Homo sapiens: one gene and its partners. The protein of the gene in region 1 purifies or fractionates together with the protein of each later gene. This does not show direct contact. Each region holds a gene or a part of one and is shown on either strand. Other genes may lie near its edges.

Region 1 (3,500 bases):
ACCATTATCAGCTGAGGATCTTTTAAAAATAAACCAATCAACTCTCTCTTAGCCCACCTCATTCCTGAGAACAAAAGGCCTGATTCTGATGGGAAGAACCACAACCCCCAGGGGACAATTTCCTTAGAGATCTGCCACTGTCCGGCAGGCCTTGCTCTCTCCAGCCTCTTCCCCGCAGCCTTGGGCCACCCCGGCACTGCAGTCCTGCTTTGGATCGCTGGGACAATGCGCTATTTGTTAAGATTCTGTCTGCGCTCTTCAAAACACTCTCTCATGAAAAGGATCATACAATGAGCAAAGAGCAGCCAGGGCAGGGTGGGGCAGGATGAAGAGAAAGAATGAACAAAACACCAGTAACACTCAGCAAGCACTTACTGAGCACCTACTGTGTGCAGGCCCCAGCTAACCCACTGCTGAGCTGCCCGGCTGGCTTCGCACAGCCAGCCCCTTCTCCTCTCCCCATGCTGGGTTAATGTTTGCTTAGTAGACAAGGTGCTTTGATCTCTGCCTGGAGTTTCAGTTACTGTAAAGAACACAGTGCCAAGGAGGGCTGGGGACAAGGCTCCCAGACTCTGCCAGTCCAGCTGCTGCAGGATAAGCCTATGCCGACTGCAAATACACTGAGACAGGAGTCGAGCCTGGGGCCATCCTAAAAACATGACTTCATGTGTTGATTTTCACTGTTGTCAGTGGATTCTCACTGGAAGCGCCCCAAGAACAGAGCACTAATCTGCCATTTTAGGTGACGGCAAGAGGACAGAGACTGGGTGATACATTGATCAGAGGTCCTGCTGTGGGCCCCAGATGCCAGTGCAGCCCAAGAGCAGGAGACGAGGTGCTTCTCTTTGCCCAGCACCTTCCTTTGGTCTCCTGACTCCTCAAGCAAAGGTGAAACCCAGATATGGCTGGAATTCAAGTCTCCTCTAACTTCCTCCTTCTTCCCAGCCCTGGAATAGGTGAAAGTGCCAAGGCTGAGGTTGCAGAAGCTGGTGGAGAGTGGAATCAGCTGGGGGGAGCTGGTCCTATCTCACAAGCAGCAACAACAAAAGCAAGGAGGGCCTTGGCAGGCGCTAGGCACATAAACAAGCAGGGTTAACTTCTTCCCTGGGCTGGAGAGAACCTATCTGTGCTTGTGACAGAGAGACAAAGAGTGCCCTTTGGCATTTGCCAGGAAAGCCTTTGGAAAAACAGGGTGTGACCCTGTTGCCACAGCAACCCAGCCACACTCTGGGGCTCACATGGTGTACAGTGTAAGAGGAGGGGCCGGGCGCGGTGGCTCACACCTGTAATCCCAGCACTTTGGGAGGCCGAGGCGGGCGGATCACAAGGTCAGGAGATCGAGATCATCCTGGCTAAAACAGTGAAACCCCATCCCTACTAAAAATACAAAAATTTAGCCAAGTGTGGTGGTGGGCGCCTGTAGTCCCAGCTACTCGGGAGGCTGAGGCAGGAGAATGGTGTGAACCCAGGAGGCGGAGCTTACAGTGAGCCGAGATTGCACCACTGCACTCCAGCCCCTCCAGCCTGGGTGACAAAGCCAGACCCCGTCTCCAAAAAAAAAAAAAAAAAAAGAGGAGGGGAGCCCCTCCTCAGTCCAGGGCTTGAAACAAGATAATTCCTAGGAAGTAACTGGCAAATAAAGGAACACATTCGGGAAAACTAGATAGAAGTGTACAACACAGAGTTTGGAAGCAATCTTTCAGTGGTCCTCTCCCTTCTGAGTCCTGGAATGAATCTAATGTGGAAGACTTGAACCCCACATTTCTGTTTCTTTTCTTTTTTTTTTTTTTAATTGAGATGGAGTCTCGCTATGTCGCCCAGACTGGAGTGCAATGGTGTTATCTCGGCTCACTGCAACCTCCACCTGCCAGGTTCAAGCAGTTCTCTTGCCTCAGCCTCCCGGGTAGCTTGGACTATAGGCAAGTACCACCATGCCTGGCTAATTTTTTTTTTTTTTTTGGATTTTTAGTAGAAATGGGGTTTCACCACGCTGGCCAGGCTGCTTTTGAACTCCCAACCTCGTGATCTGCCCGCCTCAGCCTCCCCAAGTGCTGGGATGACAGGCATGAGCCACTGCGACCAGCTGAGCCCCACATTTCTTGTAAGCAGACAGAGCCTCAAGCCAGTAAAGCGATGTGTCCACAGTCTCTTGGAAGCAGCGCTGGGTCTGTGGCTGCTGCCTGGGTCTGATGGGTGTGTTCTCAGAGGCAGCCGCACTTAGGACTTGAGAAGCCAGCTGTCAGCGTGACTTGCCCTGGTGCGTGCCCAAGTCAGAAAACACCCAGAGTACCCACAGCTGCCAGGGAGGGATCTGTGCAGGAACAGCTAGTTGGACGGGCTTATGGGATGGCAGGGAGTGAGCGAGCTGGGGGGCCCCAGGGGACGGTGGAGTATCTCCAGCTCCTGAGTGACAGAGAGAACCCACGTGCACTGCCACACCAGCACCACTGCTCCAGGCTCAGCCGTGGGCATCTGCGAGGCCCTGGAGGGCACAGACAGGGTGTGCATGCTCGGCTCTGTCAAGGGGCTGCAGTGCTGCAGATGCCTGTGGTTTGGCTTCTCTGCTCTCCTGCTTGTTCTCTAAAAGCTGGGGCTGTCTACATGCATGGACACACTTCCCATACCTGGTAAGCAACCTGAGTCCTGACACCAGAGTGGACAAAAGCTTAGGTAGAGGGGCTGACAGGCACTGCATCATGAATGGAAGCCACTGTCCTTCAACTAATTACGTCTTCAGTAAGAGGAACTAAACTAGCTACTCGTCAATGAGGAATGGTGAGTAATCAAAACGATGCCGCTTAAAGATCCATTTGTGTCCTCATGGGTGAATCAGTAAACAAACTGTGGTGTATCCCTACAGTGAAATATTACTTGGCTACAAAAAGAAACTCTGGACATGCCCAACTACATGGATGAGTCTTGCAAGCACCGTGCTGAGTGAAAGAAGCCAGACAAAAACACTAGTTCCCTTTCTATCCCTGGTTCTTAACTAGGGGTGATTCTGCCCCAAGGGGACATTTGGCAATGTCTGGAGACATTGATCACTGTCACATCTGGGGAAGGGAGAGTGCCTCTGGCACGTAGTGGGTAGAGACCAAGGACACTGCTAAACACCCTGCAAAGCACAGGACAGCCCCACAACAAAGACTCATCCAGCCCTAAGTGTCAGTAGGGCCAGGGTGGGGAGATCCTGATTTATAGGAAATTCTAAAGAAAGGCAAAGCTATAGTGAGGAGAGTGTAGATCACAGCTTGCCTGAGGCTGAGGGAGGGAATCACCTGTAACACGGTCGGGGCACAAGGGAACATTTCGGAGTGATGGGTGCGTTCTGTATCACAATTGTGGTGGGGCTAACACAACTATACACATTTGTCAAAATTCATAAAATGGCACACGTAAAATTGGCAAGTCTTACTCTATGTAAATTATACCTCAATAAAGCTATTTCCAAAAAGTGGCACAGGGAGAAAAAGTGACAAGTTGGCTCTGGAAGCAACTGG
Region 2 (3,349 bases), on another chromosome or scaffold:
AGTAGACAAACAGGCTTTTATGAGGCCCAACACCCCTCAAGGCAGTTTCTCCCCCTCCAGCCTAGCTTCAGAGGAGCTGTGTCATCTCTGTGTTTGGTCTCAGCTTCCCCTGTTCCTTCTCTGCCAAGGTGCCTCGTGGTGGCCACCATCAGGGAGAAAGAAGTCCAACCAGGCCCTTCCCAGCACACGTGATCCCAGCTGCCCCCACTCTGAGCCAGGAGAAGGCCTGGGAGAGCAGGATGCTTTTTGGATTTCTGTACATTAGAATGCTGTCTGGCACTCTTTGCTCCATGTAGTTAAAAAAAAAAAATCCTACTTTCTTAAAAATTTTTATATTTTTCTTAAAAATCAAATTTTCTTAATAAAGCATAGGACCTCATTTTCACAGAAAATGGTGACTCCTCATAGACAGTGAAACATGGAAATCTCTTTTTTTTTTTTTTTTTTTTTTTTTAAGACTGAGTCTCGTTCTGTCGACCCGGCTGAAGTGCAGTGGCGCGATCTCGGCTCACGACAAGCTCCGCCTCCCGGGTTCATGCCATTCTCCTGCCTCAGCCTCCCGAGTAGCTGGGACTACAGGCACCCGCCACTGCGCCCAGCTAATATTTTTGTATTTTTAGTATAGACGGGGTTTCACCGTGGTCTCGATCTCCTGACCTCGTGATCCGCCCGGCTCAGCCTCCCAAAATGTTGGGATTACAGGCGTGAGCCCCTGCGCCCGGCTGAAACATGGAAATCTGAAATGCTGCTGGTGTGCCTTCCCTCTACAAGGGGAAGGAAGGGGTTCCCCCATGATGGAAATGCCCCACTGGGCATCCAAGTGGCAAAGTGGAGACACACTCAGGGCTGGTGGCACACACAGGCAGGAGGGCTGGCAGGCCACCTGCAGGGAGTCTGTCTGGGCCACAGGCCCAGAGCAGCCAGGACAGGCCATCACAGTGCCACCGTGCTTCCCCAGCTGCACGGGAGCTGTGGGAGGAGGGCAGGAGAGCATCTGAGGTGGCAGAAGGGGTGTGTGGGGAGTACCCCTGGCACAGACTGGTTTGGAGCCATATCACGTGGCCTTGTTCAGAATGTATATGATCTTTACCTGTCGGTTCACAACAAAAAGTAAGCACATCCCCACATACCCATACGAGGGTTCAGAAAATACATGCTACCTCGGTGTACACAGGCCACTGCCATTTCCACCTGCTGCCTAGTGGCCCAACTCCCAGCGGGGCCCAGCCAAGCAGGCTGCTCTCGTCGCCTCATGCTCCGTCCAGCCCGGGAATTATCCTGCTACCAGCGCCTGTCCTCACCAGGCTGGAGACAAGGCCACACCTGCCCTGGAGGGTGAGGAGGAGCGCTCTGCAGGCAAATACCTCTGCGGCCTCCCCGGGTCCACACTCCATGGCCTGGAAGCCACGACTTTCATTTATTCAAGGAAAAATGAGCGCTGACCTTCCAAACAGTTCCTTGATCACACTGCCTCTCACCCTGTGCTCTGTACAGGGGAGCAGGGGCCAGAGGTCTGGTCCTAGCCCCTCAGAAGGTCCCCAAAGAGGTACAGGCTGTGTCAGGTGCCAGGTGTCAACAAGGGAAACTGCTTTGCCTGACACAAGCGTCCATGGCTTCTGGCTTTGGGGCAGGGTAAAGGGAAACTGACGAAGGGGTTGAGGAGTCCAGGGCTCTGGCTGCTAGAGGGGCAGCCTGGGCAAAGTGGCCAGGAAAGATGGCCCATCTCCCAGAACTCCCTCTTGCTGGGGTCCAACTCTTCCACAGTGCGGCCCCTTCTGTCTGCTGACCTTGGAGAAACCAGGCAGCTCATTCCCTTTCCTTGGACCTGGTGCTACCCTGGGAACATTCTTAAGTCCTCCATGTAATTGGGGTGTGGAGCTTAAACATGAGGGGGACCAGCAGGAGGTCCTGGGACTGGGCTCAGGGCGGTTCACCCTGATCATTGACCCTCTGCTCTGTGGGCTTCTCTTGGCAGCTGACTTTCACGGGACGCTCGTGTGTGCCAAAAACTTCAACAAACCTTCAGCGTGGGAGCTTTTATCATCCCCATTTTACAGATGAAGAAACTGAGGCACAGTGAGATTAAGTAACTTGCCTAAAGTTACACAGCTTATCAGTGACAAGCCTAGGCTGTGAGCCTAGGTGGCCTGGCTGCAGTGAGCACACTAAAGCACTGGGTAGTGTGCATCTTGGCTCTGTCCCCATCAAGAATGCCAAAGGAGAGGCCTGCTGGTGTCCCATCCCACTTCCAGCCCTGATGCCCAAACTCAGGCAGCCTGAGGAAAGACTAGGGGATCCCTGTCCTCACCCAGCAGCAGCACCTGCTGTCCTGGTTTAGGCTGCCTGGCCTAGCTGCTCTGAATTAAATGAGCAGAAACTCCTACCTCAGCCACAGTGGGAATGGACAGCCCCCAGGGTCACCCACCCCCTCACATTGTCAGGCCTCATGTGTCACCTCCCCCTGAAAAGCAGTCTCTTACCTGGCTAAACATTTAGGTTTGGAATTATTACAAAGGTCATAAGGATAATTCATGTGAGCCATGAAAACTCAATATTATAGGAACCGAAAGGACATAGTGACAAGAACCTCCTCCTGGATGCACCACGAGAAGCTGCCCCAATCACTTCACTGTCAACGCTTCTTTCACTGGCACTTGTGCCACTGCAGCATTAAGTGATCAGCCCCAAAACATGCTGTGGAACTCGCCTGGGTCACTGCTGGGTGGCCCATCCCCTGAAGACAAGGTTCAACTTTAAACAAGGTACCTCTCTCTCCCTAAATCGGAGTGACAGGAAGCCGGATTGAGGACCCTATGGCCTGGGCACTGTCACTCCTCACCCGATACTGTCCGCCTCCCAAGTCAAGGCCCTCATGGCCAGTGTCAGGAAGCCTCATGGGGTGTGGTCAGCAGGGCTCCAGAAGTTTTATCTTCAAAGTCACATCTGCCGAGGTTCACCTGGGGGCTCATTTCTGAACCCTTTTCCTACTCTGTTACCAGCAATTTCCTGGAAGCCATGGCCCTTCTCAAGAAAGCCTTGGCCTTAAAATCACTTGTTTGCCATCGAATGTATTCTGTTGTTTCTCTAGACCAAGGGTTAGCAAACTACGGCCGGCTGCCCCTTTGTGTAAATAAGGTTTTATGGACACGCCTGCTGGCTTCCGTATGGTCTCTGGCTGCCTTCTGGGTCCAGCGACAGGTTGACAGAGGCTGTATGGTCCACAAAGCCTAAAATCTTTACTGTTTAAATTTGCTGACCCTTGCCCTCGCTCTTCCCTTACTCAAACTCTCACAAAGCACCTCCCCAACGCTGGCCTGTGCCTGGCCCAGGATGATAATACGCAGACTCG
Region 3 (3,947 bases), on another chromosome or scaffold:
TCAAACCCTTGAGATGAGCAGACATCTCCCTTTACACCAACGCCTCATCCCCCTGAGGGTTCCTCAACTTCCTGCCATGGTACAAATGAGCTTGCCACTTAGCACCATCCTTGATCAGGCCCCCCCCCGCCCCCAGATCTAAGAACAGAGTTCACCTAGACTCTGTGGGGTGGCTTCTTTCTGCGTTGGGGGTACCTCCATTCCTCATGAAGGGGGCACACCTTGGGTCCTGCTGATCCTGGGAGTCCTCCTTCTACTGACCAGGTGTGGAGCCCTCTGTTGGATCTCTCAGTGCCCCCTGGGATCAAGGTACTCACCTCCCTGAGACCTCTCACCCCCAGTCACGTGGGAGAAATGAGAGCATGCCTCATGCCATTCCTGCCTGGGGCCACCTGGGGCTGAGAACAGGTGACACCAGTGTCTGTGAGGTCCTTTCTTTTTTGAGAGCGTGGAGGTACCTTCTTACCTTCAGTCCTCACCAAACTTCCTCCCCGTCACTCCTGGAAGACCCTGGATTCCACCCTGTGCTGACCAGGTGTGGCTCCCTCTGCTGAGCTGAGGAAACCCCTCGGACCAAGGCCCCCACCTCCCGGAGACCCGGGAGGCAGAAGTGAGGGGCCACCTCATGGTCACTCATGCATGAGATACCCAAGGCTGACCAAAGGAGCAGGTTCCAGGGGGCCTCGTCGGTCTGGGTGTCCTCTAGGTATTCATATTTGCTTCTGACAGAATCTGGCCCCTTCCATTTTGCTGAACCAGAGGTGAGTCTTGCAGACCAAGGCCAATTTCTCCCTTAGACCCTCTTTGAGAAAGTGTGTGTTGGGGGTGGAGGGGGCACTTCCCTTCCTCACCGTCCTGCCTGGGGCCTTCCAAGACTGACGGCAGGGGCAGGTTTCCTAGGTCTGGGATGAGAGGTCTGGTGAATCCTTCCTCAGGCCTCTGGGACTCCTCCTTCTGCTCACCTGAGGCCCCACTCCTCATACCACAGCCCTGTTCCCATTGACACCCGATCCCACCAGCCACAATGCACCACATGCGGCCACCGTGCCCGGGATCGCCCAGGCCAAGATCCCCACTGAGCTGGACTCCGGGGTCCCCTCTGTCCTCCGTCTTGTTCCTTCCCTGGTCTCCTAGAGGGCTGGGCCCCACCCCTCTGTGGACCTGAGTCTCTATCTGTCGGATTCCCGAGGCTGAATGAGGAGGGGCCTCGGTCTCAGATAGGGGCGGGGTGGGCCCCTTGTCCTGGGGTACTGGGTCCCCTCAGGCCTCCCTTGTCTCCCAGCAGGACCTGGGCCCTCCCTCTGTTCTCCCGCGGCCACGCTAACGATACCAAGCCCCTTCCCTCGGTCAGCCCAGGATGCAGATATCACGATCCGCTTGCCTGACCGCCATGCCCGGAACTTCCCAGGGTCCACTGCAGGGGCAGTGACTCCCTCTATGGGGCCTCAGCCCTCCCTCAGGGTCCTGGCCCTGATGCCTGGCAGAGCCTGGCCCCTGCCCTCTCTTAACCAGTCCTGCCCTGGTCACACCAAGCTCTGACCCAGAGTCCCCTGGGGCTTAAGTGGTGGGGTGGCGAAGGGTGGCCCACAGCCTGAGAAGTCCGCCCCCGGGGTGGTTCAGGGCTGGCAGCAGGGGTGCTGCTGGATTATTTGGGGCCCTCTATCTGGGGTGGGGGCGTCCTCAGTCCTCCCTCAGCGTCTCATCTTGCCTCCTCACAGAGCCTGGGCCCGCTTCCCTCTGCCGATCTTCAGCCACCACTCAGAACCAAGCCCTTGCTACTCTCTGACCCCCAGTGCGCAAGTCAGAGGCCTTACATCCGGGCACCCGGAGCTTCCCTGGGTTGACAGCAGGAGCCGAACCGGATTCTGCCACGGGAGACTTGGGGGTGGGGTGGAGTGGGGGGGGGGTGAGGATGGAGGTGGGGAACCTGAGGCTGTAGGTCATGGTGGTGGTGGCTGGGTTAGGGGTGTGGAGGCGTTCAGCCCTCCCTCAGGGTTCTGACCTTGATGCCAGTCAGAGCCTGGGCCCAGCCTGATACGCCCGACCCCGCGGGGTGGTCCAGGGCTGGCACAGGGGCGGCGCTGTATTATTTGGGGTCCTCTATCTGGGGCGGGGGGTCTTGAGTCCTCCCTCAGGGTCTCACCTTGCCTCCTCACAGAGCCTGGGCCCGCTTCCCTCCACCGATATCGACCCGCCCCTCACAGCGAGGCCCCCGCTACTCTCTGACCCCCAGTGTGGGAGTCACTGGCCGTACATCCGGGCACCTGGGGCTTCCCTGGGTTGACAACAGGGGCGGAACCAGATTCTGCCGCGGGAGAGTTGGGGGGGTGGGGTGGAGTTTGGGGTGGGGTGGGGTGGGGTGGGGTGGGGTGTAGAGTGGAGCTGAGGATGGGGCTGGGGAACCTGGGGCTGTAGGTCATGGTTGGGTTGGGGGGGCCCAGCCTCCCTCAGGGTCCTGGCCTTGATGCCCGGCAGAGCCTGGGCCCTGCCCTCTCCTAACCAGCCCTGCCCTGGTCACACCAAGCTCTCACTCCAGAGTGCCCAGCAGCTTGAGCGGCGGAGGGAGGGGGTCGGCCCAGCCTCACAAGTCAGCCCCAGATCGGCCCCCGGGTGGTCCAGGGCTGGGAGCAGAGACGGCACTTGGTTCTTTCGGGTCCTCTATCTGGGGTGGGGACATCCTCAGTCTTCCCTCAGCACCTCACCTTGACTCCTCACAGAGCCTCGGCCAGCTTACCTCCACCGGTATCAAGCCGCCCCTCAGAAGGAGGCCTCTCCCTTCTCTCTGACCCCCAGTGCGCACGTCAGTGACGTCACATCCGGCCCCCAAGCCTGGAGCTTCCCTGGGTTGCCAGTAGGGGCTGAACCGGGTTCTGGCGGAGTAGGGGTGGGGATGGGGATAGGGGCCCTCAGTCATCCCTCAGGGGGTCCTGACCTTGATGCCTGGGTCTCGATCCCCATTCTCTGCCCATTGGGTCTGCTCCTCTCGGACCAAGTCTCTGACTCCCAGTCACATGAGGTGGCAGTGAGGGGAGGGGTGTGGTCGGGGTGACAACATTGCCAGGGTCTTCCAGGGCTGACAGGAAGGGCTGAGCTGGATTCTGTGGCCCCTCTATGTGGGGAGGTTGGACCTTCAGTCCCCTCTCAGGAGGGTTCTCCTCCTGGCTCCTGGCTCTTTGATGAAGTGATGTGTGGGAGATGATCTGTTTATGTCACCTTTGAGCATTTGCCCAGCTGCACGCGTTGCAGAGAATGGCTGCGGGTCCCAGGCTAGATGCTCCCTGGGGGGCTGCAGCACCTGTGATTGTAGGACCTGTGAGAGAAGATGCACACCATCCCATGGGGGCTCCTCCCCAGCCAGAGCTAGACTTTGCAAACCTTTTGTCCTAAAAGATTTATTTTTACACGGAAGAGGCTGAGCAGCAGCAAGAGATTTGGAGAAGCCATGTGTTTTGAAGGTATCGAACACAGCAGAGTCCAGATTAGCGATTTTCATATTTTAATTCTCATTCACATGGTAATAAATTTTACACTGTATGTGTACATTATATATGGTATTGTACATTTTGTTTATATCTACGTTTATATACATACCTGTTTTAGACATTATATACATCTATGCTTATATGTATACATACACGCATATATATCTTTATATCTTATATTTACTTACATGTATATATCTTTAGCTACATATTCGTTTGTATTTCTAGACTTTATACTATATATATGCACACATATTTTATTAATATCTACTCATAGTATGTGGCCTTCACACATACTTACTATTCTATTCCTAGTTCATTCTTTATATTCCATTAAAATAATAATTTTTTGGAAGGCTGGTCTTCTCCTACTAAGTTTGTTTCAGGTGGTTGTTAGCAGAACTCTGGAGCCATAGTGTCTCAATCAACTCAAATTTCCTGGTGTCCTGATATTACTCCAGGGCT

The links. The genes of interacting proteins can lie anywhere in the genome.
Region 2: the proteins of SAP30BP (region 1) and POC1A purify together in Homo sapiens (affinity purification with mass spectrometry; one large-scale study listed by BioGRID and IntAct). This does not show direct contact.
Region 3: the proteins of SAP30BP (region 1) and MAGEA9B purify together in Homo sapiens (affinity purification with mass spectrometry, with the first as the bait; one large-scale study listed by BioGRID). This does not show direct contact.

What each region holds. Positions count from the first base shown.
Region 1 is NC_000017.11:75,694,838-75,698,337, reverse strand, and holds part of SAP30BP (SAP30-binding protein), read right to left. Parts: intron 1-3,500. UniProt on the Homo sapiens protein: Plays a role in transcriptional repression by promoting histone deacetylase activity, leading to deacetylation of histone H3.
Region 2 is NC_000003.12:52,078,075-52,081,423, forward strand, and holds part of POC1A (POC1 centriolar protein homolog A), read right to left. Parts: intron 1-3,349.
Region 3 is NC_000023.11:149,584,660-149,588,606, forward strand, and holds the start of MAGEA9B (melanoma-associated antigen 9), read right to left. Parts: upstream 2,801-3,947; 5' UTR 2,735-2,800; exon of another isoform or gene 2,703-2,734; intron 2,247-2,702; exon of another isoform or gene 2,144-2,246; intron 1-2,143. UniProt on the Homo sapiens protein: Not known, though may play a role in embryonal development and tumor transformation or aspects of tumor progression.